Linked DNA regions of Homo sapiens. The protein of the gene in region 3 purifies or fractionates together with the protein of the main gene of each other region. This does not show direct contact. Each region holds a gene or a part of one and is shown on either strand. Other genes may lie near its edges.

The links.
Region 1: the proteins of NEIL3 (region 3) and SLC25A13 purify together in Homo sapiens (affinity purification with mass spectrometry; one large-scale study listed by BioGRID and IntAct). This does not show direct contact.
Region 2: the proteins of NEIL3 (region 3) and ROCK1 purify together in Homo sapiens (affinity purification with mass spectrometry; one large-scale study listed by BioGRID and IntAct). This does not show direct contact.
Region 4: the proteins of NEIL3 (region 3) and SLC2A1 purify together in Homo sapiens (affinity purification with mass spectrometry; one large-scale study listed by BioGRID and IntAct). This does not show direct contact.

What each region holds. Positions count from the first base shown.
Region 1 is NC_000007.14:96,184,895-96,189,598, forward strand, and holds part of SLC25A13 (electrogenic aspartate/glutamate antiporter SLC25A13, mitochondrial), read right to left. Parts: coding exon 4,687-4,704; intron 4,485-4,686; coding exon 4,400-4,484; intron 121-4,399; coding exon of another isoform or gene 118-120; coding exon 33-117; intron 1-32. UniProt on the Homo sapiens protein: Mitochondrial electrogenic aspartate/glutamate antiporter that favors efflux of aspartate and entry of glutamate and proton within the mitochondria as part of the malate-aspartate shuttle.
Region 2 is NC_000018.10:21,104,289-21,110,152, reverse strand, and holds part of ROCK1 (rho-associated protein kinase 1), read left to right. Parts: intron 1-5,864. UniProt on the Homo sapiens protein: Protein kinase which is a key regulator of the actin cytoskeleton and cell polarity.
Region 3 is NC_000004.12:177,350,391-177,356,254, reverse strand, and holds part of NEIL3 (endonuclease 8-like 3), read right to left. Parts: intron 4,876-5,864; coding exon 4,706-4,875; intron 2,948-4,705; coding exon 2,527-2,947; intron 1-2,526. UniProt on the Homo sapiens protein: DNA glycosylase which prefers single-stranded DNA (ssDNA), or partially ssDNA structures such as bubble and fork structures, to double-stranded DNA (dsDNA).
Region 4 is NC_000001.11:42,948,740-42,954,603, forward strand, and holds part of SLC2A1 (solute carrier family 2, facilitated glucose transporter member 1), read right to left. Parts: intron 1-5,864. UniProt on the Homo sapiens protein: Facilitative glucose transporter, which is responsible for constitutive or basal glucose uptake. Has a very broad substrate specificity; can transport a wide range of aldoses including both pentoses and hexoses.

The DNA.
Region 1 (4,704 bases), on a different chromosome or scaffold from region 3:
AAGTGAAAATTTTTCTCTCATCCATGACTAACCTCCAGCAACAGAACCCAGACCAAACCTGTAGGCCGACTCTGCAACTTGTAGAAGAACTGGTCGAGCTGAATCACCTGAGGCCTTCTGCTTTGCATGCACAGGAATCAGAGAGCAGGAAAACAGGTGACAGAAAAGAAGATAAAACAAAAATGACCATACATTAACTTTAAACATTACTCATTGGGTTCTAAATCCATGATACAACTAAAATGTCAAGGAAAAAAGTAGGAATGGATTTCATAAGTTCTTATTAATAAAAAGATTTTAGTGCTATTAATGTTTAAAACCAAATTTCAATATAATCAAAACCATCCTTTGACAAAAATGATGTTATAAGCCTATTTTCAAATTCTCATTAAAAAAAATGCACAGTTAAAAACATCACTGAGGCCAGGCACGGTGGCTCACGCCTGTAATCCCAGCACTTTGGGAGGCTGAGGCGGGCGGATTACCTGAGCACAGGAGTTCAAGACCAGCCTGGATAACATGGTGAAAGCCCATCTCTATAATATAACACAAAAATTAGACCAGCATGGTGGCATGTGCCTGTAGTCTCAGCTACTCAGGCTGAGGAGGGAGAATCACTTGAGCCCAGGGGGCAGAGGTTGCAGTGAGCTGAGATCACGCCACTGCACTTCAGCCTCGGCAACAGAGCAAGACTCTATCTCAAAAATAAAAATAGGTCGGGTACGGTGGCTCATGCCTGTAATCCCAGCACTTCAGGAGGCCGAGGTGGGTGGATCATGAGGTCAGGAGATTGAGACCATCCTGGCTAACATGGTGAAACCCCGTCTCTACTAAAAATACAAAAAAAAGAAAAAAATTAGCTGGGTGTGGTGGCAGGCGCCTGTAGTCCCAGCTACTTGGGAAGCTGAGGCAGGAGAATGGCGTGAACCCGTGAGGTGAAGCTTGCAGTGAGCCGAGATCGCGCCACTGCACTCCAGCCTGGGCAACAGAGTGAGACTGTATCAAAAAAATAAAATAAAATAAAGTAAATAAAGCAAATAAAAACATCAATGAGACATCATTTTTCATCAATCAAATTGGCAGGTTTTTGGTTTGTATGTATTTTTGTTTTTGTTTTAAGTGGCAATACCCAGCCTGGCAAAAGTTGATAACAAGCCTTCTGAAATTTGCCATTAAAGCAAGCATAAATAGAGAGATGTTTAGTAATATACACCCAAACCCTTAAAATGTACATAACCTCTGAAGTTAGAATAGGCTGGGTGCAGTGGCTCACACCTGTAATCCCAGCACTTTGGGAGGCCGAGGTGGGTGGATCACTTGAGGTCAGGAGTTCGAGACCAGCCTGACCACCATGGAGAAACCCCGTCTCTTCTAAAAATAAAAAATTAGCCGGACGTGGTGGCGCATGCCTGTAATCTCAGCTACTTGGGAGGCTGAGGCAGGAGAATCACTTGAACCTGGGAGGCGGAGGCTGCAGTGAGCCAAGATCGCGCCACTGCACTCCAGCCTGGGCAAGAAGAGTGAAACTCCGTCTCAAAAAGAAAAAAGTTAGGATAGAAGATAATCATGCATGTAACAAGCTACAAGAATGTAGCACTTAAAAAACATTTGTAGTACTTATTGGAAATTTCGATTATTTCCCAAATTTTTGCTCTTTAAACAAAAAGAACAAAAATTTGGGAAATATTCTAAATGTCCAATAACGGAGGACTATAGCCTTTAAAAATAATAACTTTAAAACAAAACCCTATCATTCAAAATGATACTGTAAAAGAATATTTGATATTAAATGTTCACAAGGAATTATAAAAGAAAACATAGGCTAAAAAGAGCATGGTAAGTAGATAGGTATTTGTCATATGATTCTTTGTACCTATTTAAATGTTTGACCTATTTCCTGGTAATTTTTTTAAAAACAATTTTTAAGACTATATACAAAATGATGTCACTTTTTATTAAAAATGCTTGTAAGAGGTTTACATATATATGCATATAAAATTAATACTAATATTTTGCCTCCCTACCACCCAGAGATACTCAAAACATTTACAGTAGCTAAAACTAGGTGGCTGTATTACAGTTGATCGTTACTTTTTCTCTTTTTTTGTCCATCTTTTCTAAATTCATACTTCAGGTCAGTCAGTCATTGTTTTCTGGTTCTTTTGACCTATTATCCTCACAGTGTTTTTGATGCCAGAACATTTCAGAGTGCTGCACTTCTCTGTCTGCATAAATAAAACAGTAATTTTATGTCACAGAGAGTTGTCAAATGAGGGTGACATATAGTCAGTGCTTAATAAATACCTGTTGAATGAATACATACATTCAATAAAATTTGTTTTTCAGAATCCATGATAATTAAAATCAGTGAACAATGAAAATAATCAGCAACCCCAGCTATCAACCCACTGAATTTTAGTTGCTGTCAATGTAACACAATTCTAATACAATGAGATCATTTGGAATCTCCTTCAAAGTCACTTAACTGAAAATAGCTTTACATAGAAATATGCCTCTTTAAGATACAAAACATTTCTTTTGCAAATTCTATGAGTTGTTTCCAACTGTAGCCCTATATAGATGGAAATCAATAGTACCTTCATTTTGACAGATGCATCCAAAAGAGAAGCAATATTTTATTTACAGGGATATAAATATGCAATACTTAGAAATGTTCTGGCATCAAAATAATGAGTGAAAATACTCTGAAAATTATAGAGGGTGGGGGGAGGAGGGACCTACCACCACCATTAATTCCTCTCCTAAAAGACAAATGAAATCCTAGACTTTTATTTAACTTTTCCAAAGCCAGAACTGTAGCATGTTCTTGAAATGAGACAAAACTCTGCTCCTTCACTCCTCTGTCCAGGATAAATGCTACAAGTGCTGCACAGTGCTGGACAGGCAGCGCTGTGCCCACAGGTGGACGACCTCCCTTGCTTGAATTTGTCGGGCCCACTAGGGTTCATGCAGTAAAAAGCCTATTCCAGGTAAGGCCATTGTGAATTGCTCTAAACCTCTAAGCGGCAGCGAATCATTTCCTGCTATAAATCTCATCAATCTGGTCTAACCCTTTCATGGCCAGTATCAACAAGCACCCATCATAAACTCTCAAAAGCTGCAAAGAGCTTAAAGGAAAAATTGTGGGAAGCCGCTGCCAGCTGAAGAGTAGGAGGGATCTAAAAAAAACTTCTCTGCTTCTCTTAATCCCCAAATTTCTACAATAGCTGGTGGCATACAGACGAAGAGATAATCATCTCCTAAGCAGTGTTAAAAATCAAAGGGAAGGGAGAGCAGTGTTGCTTCCACCTCTACACGTGATTATAGTTATTTCTCCTGCACTCAGAGAAATCGGCTTCCTCTTTTAAGCAAGGCCAGCTGGTTTTCCAGAGGTGCTCGTTAGAATTTACTGAGCACACACCCACTACTTTGACTTGCATGCTGCACACAAAACTCACCGCTGCATTTGGGTGGGAAAGAGCTAAAAGAAGGGGGCCCTGGCTCAAGGTCTGACAGTCCTAAAAGTGTAGCCTGCAGCAACCCATTGTGGTCACACTGGCGTCTCTGTACAAACCCAGAGCTCCATGCCAGAAACTGCGAAGTCTCACAGGATTCAGAGATGGCTCTGCCTAAAAGGAGAAATTTTTCTAAAAACGACACTCGCCTGTGAGTGGATTTATTTTACAAACACCATTTATTTTACTAACACATGCTATGAAGGCTTTTCTTCTCTAATCCTGATCTACAGAAAGCTGGGTAAGAGTTAAAGGAGAAAGTTCCATGTCTTAAGTTTCTGACTCCCACAACTTCAAGAGATTGGTTTCTGTTAACCATAAAATAAAATTTAGCATTCCTAAAATTGTTTCCATATAACTTATGAATCCTTTCACAGAGAAAATAGGTCTGAAAGCCTTTAAACTGTAACTCCAGACTAAACAAAATTATCTCATTTTGATATTCAGAAAAACGGAAGGCATGGCAGTTAGACGATGCGCTGATGAAGGGCTGCTCCACAGAGCAAAGACGGCTTTCATTTAGCAACGTGCAGCTGCCGACAGGCACAGTGACACCAACACGGGATTCTTTCGCTACATCTCTCAACATGAGACTTCAAGAAAGGAGAAAAGACCTCCTTCATGTTTTCGGAGCATTAGGCTTCTGGTGCAGTTAGGAAATCACTCCACCTTAGCAAGAAATGAGCAAATGCCAAATACCTGTTTATCACACCATTTCTAAGCAATTTCTCTTTACAGCCTTTAAAATTTATCGAGAGTTTTGGTGCAAAACAGAAAAATGGTTAAGTCAGATACCAATGCCGCAAAGGCAACTGCAAGTGGAACAGGGTTGGGGTATCCTGCTAAGGAAACCCCAGAATGCAAGTTTGCTCCTCTTTGCTCACCTGCCTCTGGGCCTCAGCCAAGTTAAAGGGCAGAGTTCCCTCTTCCAGAGGAGCAATCCGTTCAATGTCTGCTAAGGTCATACGTCTGTAGGGGAAAAACAAACACAAGCAACAAATATACCAATTTATTACAATTTACATTATAAAATTTAAAAACATCCCTTTTTTCATTTCTCATATTTCAGTATAGCCTTCAGTTTGGCTTCTTTTTCTCCTGATTGCTGCCCTCCTCCTAACCTCCTTTTATTAAGCTAATTCCAAAAAAAAAAAAAAAAAAGCCAACTTACCCCCTTGGCTCATATAAA
Region 2 (5,864 bases), on a different chromosome or scaffold from region 3:
ATTGTCACTTGTAAAACATTCTAAAGAGGGTTTTATGACATGAAAAACCACAATCCCATTTTAAAAATAGTTAAGTGGTTGATAATACAGTTATCTGTAAATAATTGGAATTCTTAGGTTTGATACATTTCCTCTGTAAATGTATCAAAGTTGTTCAGAGTTTCTGAACAACTAAGGGTTATATAATATTTCTTGGTCCAAACAAAACCACATAATCTCTAAAATAAGGTTTCAGGGAGCATGTATATGGACAGGATTTCACAATGTCTTCGGTGAAATAATGTTAGATATGCTCAATTTTGGGGATTAAGATTAAGGAAACAAAATAATACCATTCAAAGAAATAATACAATTCAAAAATCGCATCTTGAATCAAAGGAAAATTAATGTAGATTGTTTAAAATTAACGTGCATTTCAGTTACTCTAAATTTCTGTTTATTTGTATTTTTCCACGTGTATGGGTTTTACAACAAGCTTCCCAAAGCTTTCAGAATTGTTGTAAGCATCCCTGACCAGGAAATAAGACTATTGTGGGTTGTTTGAAATGTCTCACCACATTATGGATGCTCTTTATATTGAGAGATAGTAAAGAAGGTTGATGCGTAATAGATTTTAAAACATTTTATTAAACGAGATAAGTGGAAGGAATTAGAATATATCTTGTAGTAAGGATTTCTATAACTTCTAAGAAGTCTGATTTATCTTTTAATATTTATCCAGTTTTCATATATTTTTGATTTTATTTTGCTTTTCGATCTCCTTATTACATGAGTGGTGTTATAGGGAGGGTTTAGTAGCTTTCTTTTTCTTTAAATCATCTTCTGGCCTCTTGCTATAGCTTCATTTGGTGGGGACCTTTATTTACATGTGGAGGATACAAGGAAATATAAGTCATGACTCTTTCCCTGAGAGTCCAATCTATTTAATGGAAGACAAAACCTTGTCTCACATATATACACAGAAACAAAGCTAAACACTTCACAGATTGAGAAAATGTGATAAATTCCAGATGATTGTTTAGATAATGTATGTTCTTGGAAATTGAGAGAAAGAAGTCACTGTGAGTTGAGAGAGCCAAAGTATGTTTTATAATGGATGGATAGGATTTAGGTAGAGGGTACTCAAGAGGAGTGGAGGATAACGTGAATAGAGGGTGGAGACATGACTGGCTATGACATGTTTGGGGAAACAAGGAAGATAAGGTTGGAAGGAAATATTAGCGTTAGATTGTGGAGGATTTGATTGGTAGGCTAAGGATTTTGGATTGCCTTTACACTGTTGTGGCTATTAAATATTTATAAATAAGACCGTGCTAGGATGAATGAAGAAGATGAATCTGGTGTGTGGAAGATGGGTTAGCATGGGAAAAGATTGGAGAGACAGTGAGATTGGACAGTTTTTTAAAATTGTTATTATTGTAATAGTCCAGAAATGATTGAAGCCCAAAATTGGGGCATGAGAATGAGAAAAGAAGAATTAATGGAACTTTATTGGCAGGGAAAAGATGGGGAACCAAAGAGAGAGGCAATAGTCAGATGACTCTAAAGAGGTTGAGCCTGGATTATAGGGAGAATGGTAAAAATAGCAAAGTCAGGTTTGGAAATTGCTTGTGAAGAATAGGCCTACAGATAAATTCAATTTTAGATTCGTTGTGTTTGAGGGGATAGTGGAGCAATCATGAGAAAATGACCTGTAGACTGTTGGAGATACAGAACTGAGCTCATAATTACAGATAATGATTTAGAAGTCATTTGCACAAAGGTGCAAGTTGATATAATGGTAAAGGGAGAAACAATGGAGGGAAAAATGAGGGTGAAAGATGAAGGTTGAACAAAGAGGAAGAGTGGAGGAGGTAAGCCATCAAGGCCTCCAGAGTTAGGACAGCCAGGTATCATGGAGCCCAACACTTCTAAAACAACATTTTGTTAAAGAGAATAGTCAACAGACAGATTTGGTTGTTTTTTCCCCTTCAAATCTTATAATCTTGTCCTCTTTTTCTGTTTAGTTCCACAGCTGTTTATTGATAGCTGTTACTGAAATTTTATTACCCCGTCAATCTGAACTTGGTAAAGACTGAATTTTCCTTTTTTTTTTTCTGAGATGGAATCTCACTCTGTTGCCCAGGCTGGAGTGCAGTGGCGCGATCTTGGCTCACTGCAACCTCCGACTCCTGGGTTCGAGTGATTCTCCTGCCTCAGCCCCCACGAGTAGTTGGGATTACACGCGTGCACTACCACGCCTGGCTAATTTTTGTAGTTTTAGTAGAGATGGGGTTTCACCATGTTGGCCAGGCTGGTCTTGTACTCCTTACCCCAAGGAATCCGCCTGCCTTGGCCTCCCGAAGTACTGGGATTACAGGCGTGAGCCACCGTGCCTGGCCCAAGACTGAATTTCCTTTAGAGACAAAAAATCCTTTTTCTGGGTTTGTAGTATCTAGCATGAATTTTCTTCGCATGATGTTTTATGTTTAACATTGAGCATTCGTTCGTTCATTCATTCATTGTGTCATTCAGGGTGACCTATCAGGTGACTTCAGCTTTTTCAGTGAGTCTGTTCTTGTTCTTCCCTATCTGGACTTTGGACCTCTCATGTATTATAGGAACAAAACTCCTTTTACATTGGTTGCCTTTTTCTGTTATTTTGACTTTTGTTGATTTGTGTAACTGATACTTACTTATTAGTGTGTATTATGTGCCACGTGCAGTCCTTTAGTTCTAGAGTTGTTTTTGTAATCCCAAAAATAAGGTTTTCAAATTGTTTCTTCTCTACCTCCTTTACTAGATTCATGCTTAGAAATGGAAACTTCCAAATCTTTTGGTTTCAGAAATTTGCTGGTGTATGTCCTTTTAAACTACCTTACCTACTAAACAGCTTTTTTGTTGAGACACTAATGATGAATAGCATCCGTAATCTGAAATTTGAAGTGCTCAAAATCTGAAACTTTTTGAGTGCTGACATGACGCCATAAGTGGAAAATCCACCTGACCTTGTGAGATGGGTTGCAGTCAAAATGCAGTCAGAACTTTGTTTCATGCACAAAATTATTAAAATATTGCAAAAAATAACCTTCAGGTTGTTGTGTATAAGGTATGTATGAGACGTAAATGAATTTCTTATTTAGACTTGGTCCCCATCCCCAGGGTATCTTATGTATATGCAAATATTTTAAAATCTGAAAAAGTCTGCAGTCTGAAACACTTCTAGTTCCAAGCATTTTAAACAAGGGATACTCAACCTGCAGTAGTTTAGAATAATGTAGCTGGAAGAACTCTGATAAGTGGCTATCCAATCTTTTCTCGAACACCTGTAATTTTTTTCAAGAACTAAGTAAGTTCAATCTTCATATCATGTATAAATGCTAAAATAGTCTGCAAATACTAAGATACATTATGATAACCATTCACTTGTTTCCTAGAGCATTCAAATTAGTCAACTTTGGTTTTCTGTAGGTCAGATTCTTTCCAGTGTCCTAATGGTTGTCTTTCTTACTGTCCATGTTACAGTTTATAAGGATTATCGGGAGCTATTTCTCTTTTCCGGACTTCCTTATCTTCTAATTATTTTGTCTAGGGCCTGTAATAATTTCTCAGTGATTTTGAGTACCTTTGAAAACAGAATAAGGGATGGAGTTTAGTTAAGTCTATTTAATCTTTGCAGAGGAAAAAATGCTTATGATTTGTAAATTAAATAGGAAAAACAAGGCCGGGTGCAGTGGCTCGCTCCTGGAGGGCTGAGGCCAGAGAATTGCTTGAGCCTAGGACGGGGAGGTTGCAGTGAGCCGAGATTGTGCCACTGCACTCCAGCCTGGACGACACAGTGAGAACTTGTCTCAAAAAAAAGGAAAAACAAAAATGGTTGGGAGGGTTATAGATACATTTGTTTTGAAGTTTGACATACTTTTCATGAAAATATCTTGCTTGTAGCATATTTATTGGCACATCGCTTCATGATGCCTGTTAAGAACATGACCTTTCCACTTCTCTTCTGGCTGGTGGAGGTGTAGCAACGGGTGAGCGGAGGAGACAGAAGGGAACCAGTATTAGTCAAATAGTGCCTGTTGAGTTCTAACACTGTGCTGTTTGTCACTACTATTTCTTATTAGGGAGTTTTTCAGAATGTGGAAGATAAATGTAAATGAAATTTCTGGTGTTAGTCTTTGAGTTTTTCTTCCTTTAAATTATCTTCCTGGGCTCTCTTGACCTAGTGCTTTCCCATCTTTTCATTCTTCTTTTTTTCTTTTCCTCAATCTTTGGCCTATCATACTTATCTTTGTCTTCACTCTCTTGAAGAATTCATCCATTCTTACAGCTTCAATTATTATTATCTCTATGTACATGATACCCAAATCTTTATTTTTAGTCTTTTGTTTCAAACCTTAAATATCTGACTGCCTTGTAAGCATTTCTACTTGGATGTCATGTTAGTCTCAAATCCCTCATATTCCAAAACAAGCTTCCTCCCATAAACTTATCTGTTTTGTCATTAATTCCACTATTGTCCCTGTCGCTAAACTGAAATTTTTGTTGTGAACTTTTTTGACAGTGTTAGTCCACACATTGGGTTATTACAGCAGATTTTGGGTAGCATTTTCGAATCTGGATTATTGCTGTCTAATCCCCTGTATGCCTTGCCAGTTGAATTGATCTGTTTTGGGGGTATATTACTCTTGGAATGAAAAGACCTGAGGTCATTAAATCTTTGAGCCTTAAAGTTGTATCTCTGCCAGTGTTCCTAGTTTGTGAGTTAATAGGTGTTATTAGTATCAATTGCATATCTGGTTAGTTTGGACCAGACTTTTTTGGATGTTAGTATGTTGCAGGAACTTCTTTTAAAAAAACAAGTTACTCTCCTAATTCATTTTTATTCATTCAGCAAATCTTTGTATAGGGCCTAAACTTGGATTGAAATCTAGGCTCTGACATGTATTTGCTGAAATATTTTAGGGAGTTATTTTAACCTCTCAATGCTGTTTCATCTTCAGAAAAATAAGAGGGGATAAAAGTACTAGATTGTTGTAAGAATTGAATAATATAGTCAAAGCAACTATCATAGCATTTGGTATTTAGTAAGCATTTGTAATATTGTCATATTTATAATATTTCTGTTATATACTAGTCAGTGTGCTTAGTCTAGAAGTTGATATTTATTGTCGTCTCTAAGTACAGAGTAATTTATCTGGCACCTCAAGCCGCTCATAAATTCATAATCTAGCTGTGCGTTATTGACGTCTAAGCCAATTGTAACTGAAAATTGAGACATTTATTAATAGATTCAATAAATGGGGAAGATCTTTTAGAGACTGTTTATTTGTTTAGTTGTGATTTATAATATGGTATATACTTTGTGCCAAGGGTTTAGTTGGATATAAAAGGCAATTGGGAACTAATTTATGGAGATTGAGTTGTTATCTTGTTCTCTTTCTGTGTGTATCTTTTATACTTTCAGTGTGTGTTCTGTAAATAGGCCCTCTTGCACTACAGGCACCCTGTGGGTGTGTAGAGACGTGGCTCAGAGTAACGGCTGAGATATGAATTGGTTAATTCATTAATCTTTTGAGTCAGAAATGTTTTTTTTCCGCCCAGTCCGAAGTGCCGTGGCGCTATCTTGGCTTACTGCAAGCTCCACCTCCTGGGTTCACGCCATTCTCCTGCCTCAGCCTCCTGAGTAGCTGGGACTACAGGCGCCCGCCACCGCACCCGGCTAATTTTTTGTATTTTTAGTAGAGACAGGGTTTCACCGTGTTAGCCAGGATGGTCTCGATCTCCTGGCCTCGTGATCCGCCCGCCTCAGCCTCCCACAGTGCTGGGATTACAGGCATGAGCGCCGCACCCTGCCCAGAAATGTTTTTAATCCAGAAGAAGGA
Region 3 (5,864 bases):
TTTTTTAAATCCCTAATTCATTAGTTAAAATGTCTGAGATTTTCTACAAAGCATTAAGGAAATAAAAATATGCCAAGATATTTCATCTAGGTACAACAAATGCCACAATATTTTAAGATGATCACTTCTACTTTCCACTTAAGCCACGGAACAGAAAAGACTGTTTGGAAATGATTTTCTGTTCCAGGACAGCCTCCCAACTCAAACATTCTTAATTAACTCCTTAATGAACTTCTATCATGAGGCACTAATTAGGGTTAAAGTGAAAACGTGGTGGATTTATCCAGTCAGTTAAAAGTTTAGCCCCCTTAGCTTACTTCAAATGTGAGTATATGAACAAAAGTTAAACCAGTTATCATAAATGATTATGAACAAGACATTAAAAAAACCAGTCAAGGATAAATCATCAGGATTAACTGATGGTAAATTTAGAGCTGGAATAGGAAACTTGGAGTAAACACATCTATTGAGCAGAGACTGTCTCAGAATTTGTTATGAAATAAGCTTAAGGATTCCTACAGGTTGCTCTAGGAGTTTACACCAAATGGTCCCTCACCCCACCGCTGAGAGAAGGCATCTACCCATCAGTAAAGGCACAGCTAATAAGAGGAAAAGCCAGTGAATCTCAGAATTCCACCTGAGATTACTCTAGGTCCCAACCAAAGTACATCCCTCCATAGCCGTAGGTTCCCAATCCATGAATTCAACCAACCTTGGATCGAAAATATTTGGAAACAAAAAATAATGAAACAATAAAAAAATTACACAAAATATACAGTATAACAATTATTTACACAGCCTTTATATTGAATTCAGTATTATAAGAAGTAATGCAGAGATGAGTTAAATATATGAAAAGGTGTGCATAGGTTATATGCAAGGACTATGCCATTTCATATCAGGGACTTGAGCATCTGCAGATTTTGGTATCCTGGGGGTCCTGGAACAAATCCCTTGAGGATACCGAGGGATGACTGTAACTCCTTCTCTGCCTGTCTCCCATTGGCAAGAAAAGACATACATGGGAGGACGACCCTCCATTTATATGTTATAAATTCTCCACTTATTTAAAAATGCTGGATGTAAGTCAGCTGCTTTCTGAAGGAAAAAAGAAAGCAGCTGAGAAAAGAAAATGGTGGAGAAATGTGTCCTGTGTTGGAGATATAACATCGGGTTGCCATAGTTAGGAATTCCAGATAAAGGGACTGGGAGGGCCAGATAAAGGGGGAAGGAGGGTCAACAGAAAATTGTTTCAGGAGCTGCCGATAATCATTAAGGAAAAGAGAGGATGACGTTATGTATTAAAATTTCTGTATCACAGGTGACAAAAATGAGGGTGTTCTCCTGGACATGTAGCTGGAAGTCCTATAAAATATATCTGCTCTGGTAGTATTTCTTAGTTAGAATTACAACTTTTGAATTTCAGATACAAAGTAGCAAGTATGCTTTTTAGGACTTTTAGTTAAAGAACAACGCCAGGCGTAGTGGCTCACGCCTGTAATCCCAGCACTTTGGAAGGCTGAGGTGGGCAGATCACCTGAGGTCAGGAGTTCGAGACCAGCCTGGCCAACATGGCGAAACCCCATCTCTACTAAAAATACAAAAAAAATTAGCCGAATGTTGTTGCAGTGAGGCAAGATTGTGCCATTGCACTCCAGCTGGGCGACAAGAGCAAAACGCCACCTCAAAGAAAAAAATAAAAATAAAAATAAACACCATCTCGCATGACTGTTTGAGATCCATCCACGTTCTTTAACAGAAAGGTCACTACAGGCACCTCAGACCCCTCCTTTTAGAACACAGTATACTTACTAAACTTTTATAAAAAATAGTTCCCCTTTTGGAAGACTATCTTTCATTGGAAGGAAATATTAAAAAATGCTAACTGGTTATTGATAAGCAGTATGATTATGGGTGACAAATATTTTTCTTTATACTTTACAATATTTTCCAAATATTCTGTATTGATCATGTGTATGGTTATTGTCAGAAAAAAAAAAAACCCAACTTTTCATACATGTAGGAAATTACGTTTTTCATTTCCTTCCCTTCTCTAACATTATAATCTAGAGAAGGGAAGGGAGACAGACTACTATAATAGTCTTTTAGGGTTTGATTCATGTTACCAAAAGTAATTCAACTTCCTTACCAAGGGACAATTTCTGTCTTCTTAAAACTTAATGCAACCAGCCGGGCATGGTGGCTCAAGCCTGTAAATCCCAGCACCTTGAGAGGCGGAGGTGGGCAGATAACTTGAGATCAGGAGATTGAGACCAGCCTGGCCAACATGGTGAAACCCCGTCTCTACTGAAAATACAAAAATTAGTCGGGCCTGATGGCATGTGCCTGTAATCTCAGCTACTTGGGAGGCTGAGGCAGGAGAATCGCTTGAACGCGGGAGGCAGAGGTTGCAGTGAGCTGAGATCACACCACTGCACTGTAGCCTAGGTGACAGAGTGAGACCTCGTCTTAAAAAAAAAAAAAAAAAAGCAATTATCTTAAAGACCAAGGTTAAAAGCATCATACCTGTTAGAATATCCAGGGTTGCAGCTTTTAAGCTCTGGTGATGAGTATTGGGCTGTTTTCGGTTTTTTATGTGCTGGACTAAATAATTTAGATTCTGAACTGATTGTAGGTGATATGTTTACTTTGCTGGATGGTTGAGTTATATCGTTTGTTGTCTTCTTGGAGGGGTGCTGTATATCATTCAAACAAACACTAGCAGGAGGAGAGTTTTGAAACTCCTCATCTAGTATCTGGTTTTGCTTTGTTTTTCTTTCCAAAGTACTGGATTTATTGCTAAAATCAGTCAAGACAAGAGTTGTAGTTCCAAATGCAGTTTTTCTGTTGATCTTGACTTCTGTATGAGGTTTTCCAAAAGTATTACACGGGTACTTCATTAAGTGGCTAAAGACAGTAGAATTTTCTTCACTCTTGAGCACTGAATCTGGAAGGAGAGAGAAGTAATTCTGCAATAGTCCCATAAATATAACATACTGATTATGTGAAACATCTTTTTATTTGATTAAAAAATTTACTTCACTTTATTACAGTGAACTAATATATAGAACTAATAACACAAAGTTAGCTCAGACAAGTCAGAATTAATCATCTTCTGGCTAGGAAATGAAATATTATGTAAAATGCAAAATTTCGACTTACAGAAACCCAGACATGGGTTTAACAAAGATTTATATTTGCTTTTTATGATGTTTAAGCATTTAAAGGTCACTCAGTTATCAGTTTTGCTAATATTAGGCAAAGCATTAAAAAGTGGTAGTTGAGAGATGATATCCCATAAAGCTTTAGGTCAGCAGTTAGAGACCTGTTTCTAGACTACTAGGAATGACAAGACAAAGTGAAAGGCTTATTTAAAATAAGTAAAGATGAATTACAAAGACTTAACATCTTCTTTTTTTTTTTTTGAAACGGAGTCTTGTTCTGTTGCCCAGGCTGGAGTGCAGTGGCGCGATCTCGGCTCACTGCAACCTCCGCCTCCCGGGTTCACGCCATTCTCCTGCCTCAAACTCCCGAGTAGCTGGGATTACGGGCACCCGCCAGCACGCCTGGCTAATTTTTTGTATTTTTAGTAGAGATGGGGTTTCACCATGTTAGCCAGGATGGTCTCGATCTCCTGACCTCATGATCCACCTGCCTCAGCCTCCCACAGTGCTGGGATTACAAGTGTGAGCCACCGCGACTGGCCAGACTTAACATCTATTAAATACAATGTTTCACAACAGAGTATCCTAGGATTTTGGAATCTGTACTATAATACATTCTATATTATCATTAAGATGTCTTTCTGACTCAGAAACATTAACAAGAAAATAGTTAATGAGACATATAAATGCATTTCAGAATGTTGAAATCAATGTGGCAACCTAAGATTGTGTTTTTCCATGGGCTCCGCCTCTGCTGAAGGACACTGAAGAGGGAGGGATGGAAACAGGAGATGCAGCACAGCAAAGCTGTGCAAGGGGTGATGTCTGCCTTTCTGGCCCAGGAAACAAAACACAATATGACAGTTGACACAATGCAGGGGTGCGTAAGTCAGGAATGAACTTTCTCATCTCTAATTGAAGAAAGAAATAACACTTTGAGAACACAATAGAAGCCGCTGCAATGAGATGGCTCTTAATCACAGGTTTCCTCTGAGGTTTTACATGCCCTAAATGCATGAAATCGTGAGCTATAAAGAGTTATTTTGAAGGGTTTCAATGAAATCAGTACAATTGTCTGGATACAGATTTTAATAGCACGGGGTAGAAGGGATAAAGAAGAGAAAAAATTCAGCATTTTTCTATTCCACCTGCAAAGAGATTCTTACAGAAATCCTCCCTTTCAATTTATGCAACACTTGGACTGAATAACAAACTCGAAAGTTGCTGAAATCTGCATAAAACAAAGCTTTATTGAATAATTCATTAGAAACAGTAGAGAACAGATGTGATCATCTCCATTTTTTTGAGATACAAAGGCACATACTGTTATAGCACAAACATGCTTTCCCTCCCTGTTCAAAAAAAATACTCAACAGAATATTAGCATGGTTTACATGTGAAAACTGGCAATTCCTTTAAACCTTTGAGAAAGAAATTTTATTTAGTTATGGAATATCAAGATGGAGCAAGATATATTCCTGACTTTGTATAATTAACCCTCTTAGAAATGTAACAAACTCAAAATCAAAATTCAGTCTTACCAATAGGCCTTGAGGTCAAGCAAGCATCACATGCCTTAGAAGAGGGCTTATTGATTAAAGTACACACCACACAGGTCCAGTGCTCTTCCGACTTCCGAGCCACGGAGTCCATAACATGATCCACCCTGCTAGATGTCCAACTGATTATAGTATTTCTAGTCGGTAGCTTGCTATAAGATAATTTTTAAAATTAATCATTGTTATTATTGCCTTGTTCTTGTCTGGATATTTTAGAAATGATTATAGAACCATTAATACCCCAATGCTATCTCTTTATTATTGCTTGGAAGTTAGTACTGTATCTTAGAGTCTTTTTTTTTTTTTTTTTTTTTTTTTTTTTTTTGTAGAGATGGGGTCTTGCTCTGTCATCCAGGTTGCAGCGTAGTGGCACCATTATAGTTCACTGCAGCCTCGAACTCCTGGACTCAAACAATCCTCCCACCTGAATCTCCTGAGTAGCTAGGACTACAGGTGCACATTGGTCTGCTTGGCTAATTTTTAAATTTTTAGTAGAGATGGAATGCTGTGTTGCCTAGGCTGTCTTGAACTCCTGGCCTCAAGTAATCTTCCTGCCTCAGCCTCCCAAAGCGCTGGGATTAAGGCATGAGCCACTGCACCTGGCCAGAGTAAAATGTTTTCACCTGGACCCCCCTTTAACAACTAATTGTTGTTAAAGTGAGAAACATCAAATAAAAGTTATTTAGAGTCAAATAATCGAGTAGCTTTTTTTTAAACCAACTAAAAATATTTGATATCACATTAGGAAGTATTTCTCAAATAATGTTTTAAGTAATTGGTACTTTTTTCCCAAACAAAATGAAAATACCTTTATTCAATTAAATTATGGGAAAATACACCTATGCAGAAATTAGAGGATTGAAAGATGTGAAAGTTTTATATTTACTTCATGTGCACAGAAAACTCAGGAAACTCTAGAATTTCTCTACAGTATCTGCTGAGCACTATGTAAATTCATTAATTCATAATGATGAAAAAAGATATCTCTTTGTGTTGTTTCCCTTCATGTAAGACTGTTTCATGGTGGATAGCCAATTAATAGATTAGCAAGCAAACAATAAAACCCTGATTTTTGGCCACAAATATAAATCATGATTCTCCATCTGAAGTCCTTCATTGACCATGTATTTTTACACAAAAT
Region 4 (5,864 bases), on a different chromosome or scaffold from region 3:
CCAACACAGCAAAACCCTGTCTCTACTAAAAATAGAAAAGTTGGAGCCGGGCACGGTGGCTCACCCCTGTAATCCCAGCACTTTGGGAGGCAAGGCGGGCAGATCACGAGGTCAGGAGATCGAGACCATCCTGGCTAACACGGTGAAACCCCGTTTCTACTAAAAATACAAAAAAAAAATTAGCCCGGCATGGTGGCGCATGCCTGTAGTCCCAGCTACTCGGGAGGCTGAGGCAGGAGAATGGCTTGAACCCAGGAGGCAGAGCTTGCAGTGAGCTGAGATCGCGCCACTGCACTCCAGCCTGGGCGACAGAGCAAGACTCTGTCTCAAAAAAAAAAAAAAAAAGTACAAAAATTAGTGGGGTGTGGTGGCACATGCCTATAATCCCAGCTACTTGGGAGGCTGAGGCAGGAGAATAGAATCACTTTAACCTGGGAGGCGGAGGTTGTAGTGAGCAGATATTGCACGACTGCATTCCAGTCTGGGCGACAGAGTGAGACACTCTCAAAAGAAAAAAAAATAAGACAGCTTTGGCTGCAATAAGAAAGAAAGAAGCTCAAGAAATTGCAGACTGCTGTAACATCGGCACTTGACAGGAGGCACCTGAGGTCAGAGGGCAGGTGCCCAGCCTAGCATACAAACAAAAGCCAGGGTTGGGACTAGAGTTGTTTGGTTTCCTAGCCTGGCATTCTACCCTCTGACCGGTTCCATCCTGCCAAGCCTTTTAAAAAAGAAGAGTGATGGACTAACAGTCCAAAACCTGACCTTAGGGTGACCTCAAGCATTAAGTGCTCCTGAAGCCACTTCCTTTAAGCCTTCCAATGATATCAAGACCCTTGCATGACTGAACCTCCAGACACCCCTGGTTGCCCTCGAGGCAGAAGGCACTCGCCAGTCTTCAAAGTAGAACTGAGAGGAGGGGGCTGGTGCATTTAGCAGCAGCAGCAGCAGCGAGCTGAGGCACCCTGCCAGAGGCTGCTCACACATTCTGATTAACCACCATGAACAAGCTTTTGGGGAGCGATTACTCCCTTTTCACAGATGAGAAATGAGAGAGAGGGAAAAGCGCAGAACCAGGGGACTCTAGGCTTCAGGGAAGTTTCCAATTGGGGGTCTCTGATGCCAAATTCTATGGCTTTCCTGCTTAGGTCCTCCCCCTTGTTTCCGGGTACTGGTCCCTGAAGGAAACAAGGTTTCTACCTGGTGCTTTCTATGTAGGTCAAATTCCATAAAAGCAACTCTCTGAGCCTTGCCCACTCTGAGCTGAGACAGCCCGGGCACAGGCTCAGAAACCTTTGGGCCACTTTGCTGCATTTGCTATAAGCCAAAGTTGGCAAACTATGGCAGCTAAGAATGAGTTTTACATTTTTAAGTAGCTGGGGAGAAAAAAAAGACAATGACTAATATTTTGTGATATGTAAGAATTATATTAAATTCACATTTCAGTGACCATGAATAAAGTTTTATTGGAACACAGCCACACTCATTTGTCTACAGCTGCTTTTGTACTGCAACAGCAAAGCTGAGTGGCAGGCCGAGAACTACATGTCCAACAAAGCTGACAATATTTACGCTCTATCTGGCCCTTTAGAAAAAAGTTGATCGGCCTCTGCTTTAAGCCCCACGTCCCCTGAGCTAGCTGCCCAGCATTCTCAAAGCCTTCCAGGCAAAACCACATCCTCCCTAAATAACCGAAAAGGTATGCATCCTATTATGGAATGTTAAATGTAAATGGCTCCTTGGCCATGTGTGGGTGTGGGGCCAGGATCTGGACCCTGGGGAAACTGACACCCCTGAGAAGATACACATTTGGTGGTGAGATGGGCAATAATTCAACTAAGAGAACATTAATTTGGTAAGATTGGGCACATGCAAAGTTCACTGTCACTCTCAGCAGACACATTTAAGTCCCAGCTCCTCCACTTGTGTGACCTTAAAAAAGTCCTTTCCTGGCTGGGCATGGTGGCTCACGCCTGTAATTCCAGCACTTTGGGAGGCTGAGGTGGGCGGATCACCTGAGGTCAGGAGTTCAAGACCAGCCTGACCAACATGGTGAAACCCCGTCTCTACTAAAAATACGAAAAATTAGCTGGGCGTGGGGGGCGCGCGCCTGTAATCCCAACTACTCGGGAGGCTGAGGCAGGAGAATCACTTGAACCCGGGAGGCAGAGGTTGCAGTGAGCCGAGATCGCGCCATTGCACTCCAGCTTGGGCAACAAGAGTGAAACTCCGTCTCAAAAAAAAGTCTCTTCCTCTAAGCTTCAGTTAATTCTCCATAAGAGAGGATCTTCTATGAATAAATGATATTGCTAAGGAAAGATTATGCCTGAATGCATGCTCCCAACACTCTTCTAGTCAATGGAAATTCAGCGATAAAACTATACCAAATCCCTGCCTATGGAACTTGATAGGTTAGTTGAAGGCTGGGGCAGAAAATAAATACATGTAATACATCAGGTGGTGAGTGGTATGAAGAAGGTGATGGGGCTGCTATTTCTTAATCATGGTGGGACATGCCTGTAATGAAGTATTATGCAGCTATTGGAAAGAATGAAACACATCTGTGTTTCACATAACATGTATGTGTTATGAAGAGTACCAGGGTAGATTGTTCAGGGGGGAAAAAAAGCAATAGGATGTACATATTGTGTAAGGAACAGGGAGTTAGTGAACTTGTATAGTGGCACTTGGTTGTATGTGCAGAGAGAAACACTGCCAGTATTTACCTCTAAGGGTTGGTTTGGTGAACAGAATGGGTTGCAAAGAACTATGCAGAAAGTGGGATCCAACTACACAAATATTCTATTTATAGGCATGTATCTACACATGCACAAAGAGAAGTCTTTAGGGTAAACACCAAACTGTCAAAACTAGAAGACACTCTTTCATTTATTATGCTTCTCTGTAGTTGGCTCTGTAACTTCTGAAGCTTTTTTTTAATCCAATTTTTTTTCCAGTCACATCTAAGAACTTTATTGGACACAGCTTGGATGCCAGGACCTGGTAGGCCCCACACACTGCCTGCTAGGCCCTGGACTGTCCAGGGCTGGAGTGAGGGTAGTTCATGCAAGGAAGTGTCAGACCACATGGTAACCCCACAATGCAACACTGTGGTTAGAGACTTTATATAGCTGGGAGATGGAGGGCTGCCCCACAGATGTATGAACAGGTCCAATCTTCCATAAATAAACCTACAGAAGAGAGAAAATTACACTGGAATTCATCCTTAGACGCAGAGTACCCTAGATGGGAGGGGGCATCCTCACTGGTCAGGGGGCCAGGATGGGTGATGAGGGGGCCCAGATATCCACAGCATGGGGCAGGCAGGGGCAAGGATGGGGTCAACAGATGATGGGCATTTGCACTAGGACACTGCATTCACAAGACCAACTACTGAAGGGATATGTGTCTCAGGCTGTTCATTCTGGAATAAGCAGGGGTGATCTTTATATCACATTCTGTGGCTGGTGGGCTCAAAGGCTACTTTGTGGAGAGAATGAGACCATGCAGTGAAAATGAGGATCAGGATCAAGCCCACAAATAGCCCGGGCTTCTAGGCAGCACTGTGTCCCCCACAGTGCTGATGACATAGCTGGCTGCCGGGCCACTCAGGCCCACACTCAGCCTAGCGCTTGGCTGGAGGAGATTCCCGTAGAGGCTGATGCAGTCGATCAGCGAGTTGGGGATAAGGACTTCCATCACCAGGTTGTAGATGGTGATGATGCCAGCCATGACCGCTGGGACACTGGACTTCAGGATCAGCTCCAGCCGCATAAGGGCCAGGGCCACGAGGCAGTGCTGCTCTAGGCTGTGCCACAGACAGCACACAGGGCTGTGGGATGGAGGCAAGGCGAGCCCAGAGCAGAATCTGTTTACCTGGGGCCAGAACCCTCTGGGAATAGCTTCTGCACAGCTGTGAGGGCCACACCCAAGTTATCACACGCAGCAGGGAGCTGAAGGCAGCCCCCACCTAGGGGCAGGAAGTCCTCAAGAAGAACTGCCACAGCTGGGTGATCAAGGAGCCCAGTGTAGCTGTTTGTTTCTTTCCTTGAACTGGGCCCTCCAGCCCAAGAGAGTCCACCTCTTCCTCCAGCAGAGGTGCTTATGGCTAGCTGGCCTGTCTGGGCTCCCACTGTGCTATGAAACCCAATCTGTGCTGCTCAGCACTCCCCAAGCCTGCTGCACAGACCACATGCTCCCCTGGAGCCTCAGTGCCGCTGACCCAGACAGCTAGCTCTCATCCCCAGTACAGCTGAGGACACAAGCTCCAACAAGAAGTGTGGCTGGCCTAAGGTCCAATGGTAGAGCTGTTTCTGATGGAGCCGTTTCCTCCCCACTCCCAAATGCCAGGGCAGGGGGAGATAAACTGGGCTAGGAGACATAGGCAGACTTCCTGTCCAGCAGAGGCCTCAGTAGCCAAAGGCTCCATCAGCTGAGGCCTGGCAAGAGCTCTCTCCCATTCCAGGGTGCAGAAGCCTCAGGGAGGCAAGTCAGTGTGGTCACAAAGAGAGGAGATGCTGTCTTCTTTCTGCCCAGGTTCAAGGCCTGGGAGCCCTGCTCAGTTACTGCAAAACCCTAATGTTTATGCATCAGCTACTGCCAGGCCTGGTGGCTGGAAGACAGAGCCTCAGGCTCCAGTCCACCCCTCCCGTGGAGAGAGGTAACAATTGGAGGCTTGTTAGGGTAGCCAGGGCTGGGCCTGCAGGCCTGGACACAGCCTCTCTGAGCCCATGAATCTGGTCAGGAGGCCTCCCAGCCTCCGCCATCATGGGGACGTCGGTTACCAGACTGCAGACTGAGTGAGCGGCTTTATCACCTTTATGCCCAGGAGTGAGGTGGGGGAAGGGGTGAGGTTGCAGGCCCCAAGCCAACACTGCACACTTTCCTCTTTGTTCCAGGCCTCCCCAGCTTTGCCAGTCTTGGGGAAGCAGGGAGCTGGATGGCTGTACCCTTGGTACTTGAGCAGAGCTCTGGGCCGACACCCCGTGACCAGGAGGCACTGGGCAAAGCTGAGCTCCTTGAAGTCACAAGCTGATTACGGGGGATTTGAGGCTGGCCCAGCTCCGGGGCAAATAGGGTCGAATCCCTGGATGGCTCGGTACTAGACAAGGATCATCTTGGGGCTGTTTACATCATTTGTACACCCAGACTGGCCTTACAAAGGGTCTTTCCACTTAAAATAGCCACTTCTCTAATTTAGGGCACGGGGCCAGTCTCACCACATCCACTGGGGGTAGCCAAGTCTCTATTTACTGAGAAGGAAACCAAGGCTCCAAGGAAAGCCACTTCTTCAAGGTCAGAGTTTAGTGGGAACATCTAGTGTTTTGTTTCCATTCACAGTAGAGTTTCAGTTGTCAAGTTACGTCTAATCCAACTTTCAGGCTCCTATGGCATGGCAAGTCCTGTGTCTGGGGATTCCTGCTCATTTGGGGTGGGTGGAGGATGGCACAGACAGGCATGTGGAGAAGAAAGCATCTTTAAAAAAAAAACACAGCTAGGCCAGGCGCGGTGGCTCACACCTGTAATCCCAGCACTTTGGGAGGCCGAGGTGGGCGGATCACCTGAGGTCTGGAGTTCGAGACCAGCTTGACCAACATGAAGAAACCCCATCTCTACTAAAAAAAAATACAAAAAAATTAGCCGGGCATGGTGGCACATGCCTGTAATCCCAGCTACTCGGGAGGCTGAGGCAGGAGAACCACTAGAACCTGGGAGGCGAAGGTTGTGGTGAGCTGAGATTGTGTCATGGCACTCCAGCCTGGGCAACAAGAGCGAAACTCCGTCTCAAAAATCAAAACAAAACACAGCTCCATAGAACGCCTCAAATCTTTTGTGATAGCCTTATCTCGGACAAATCTCTTCCC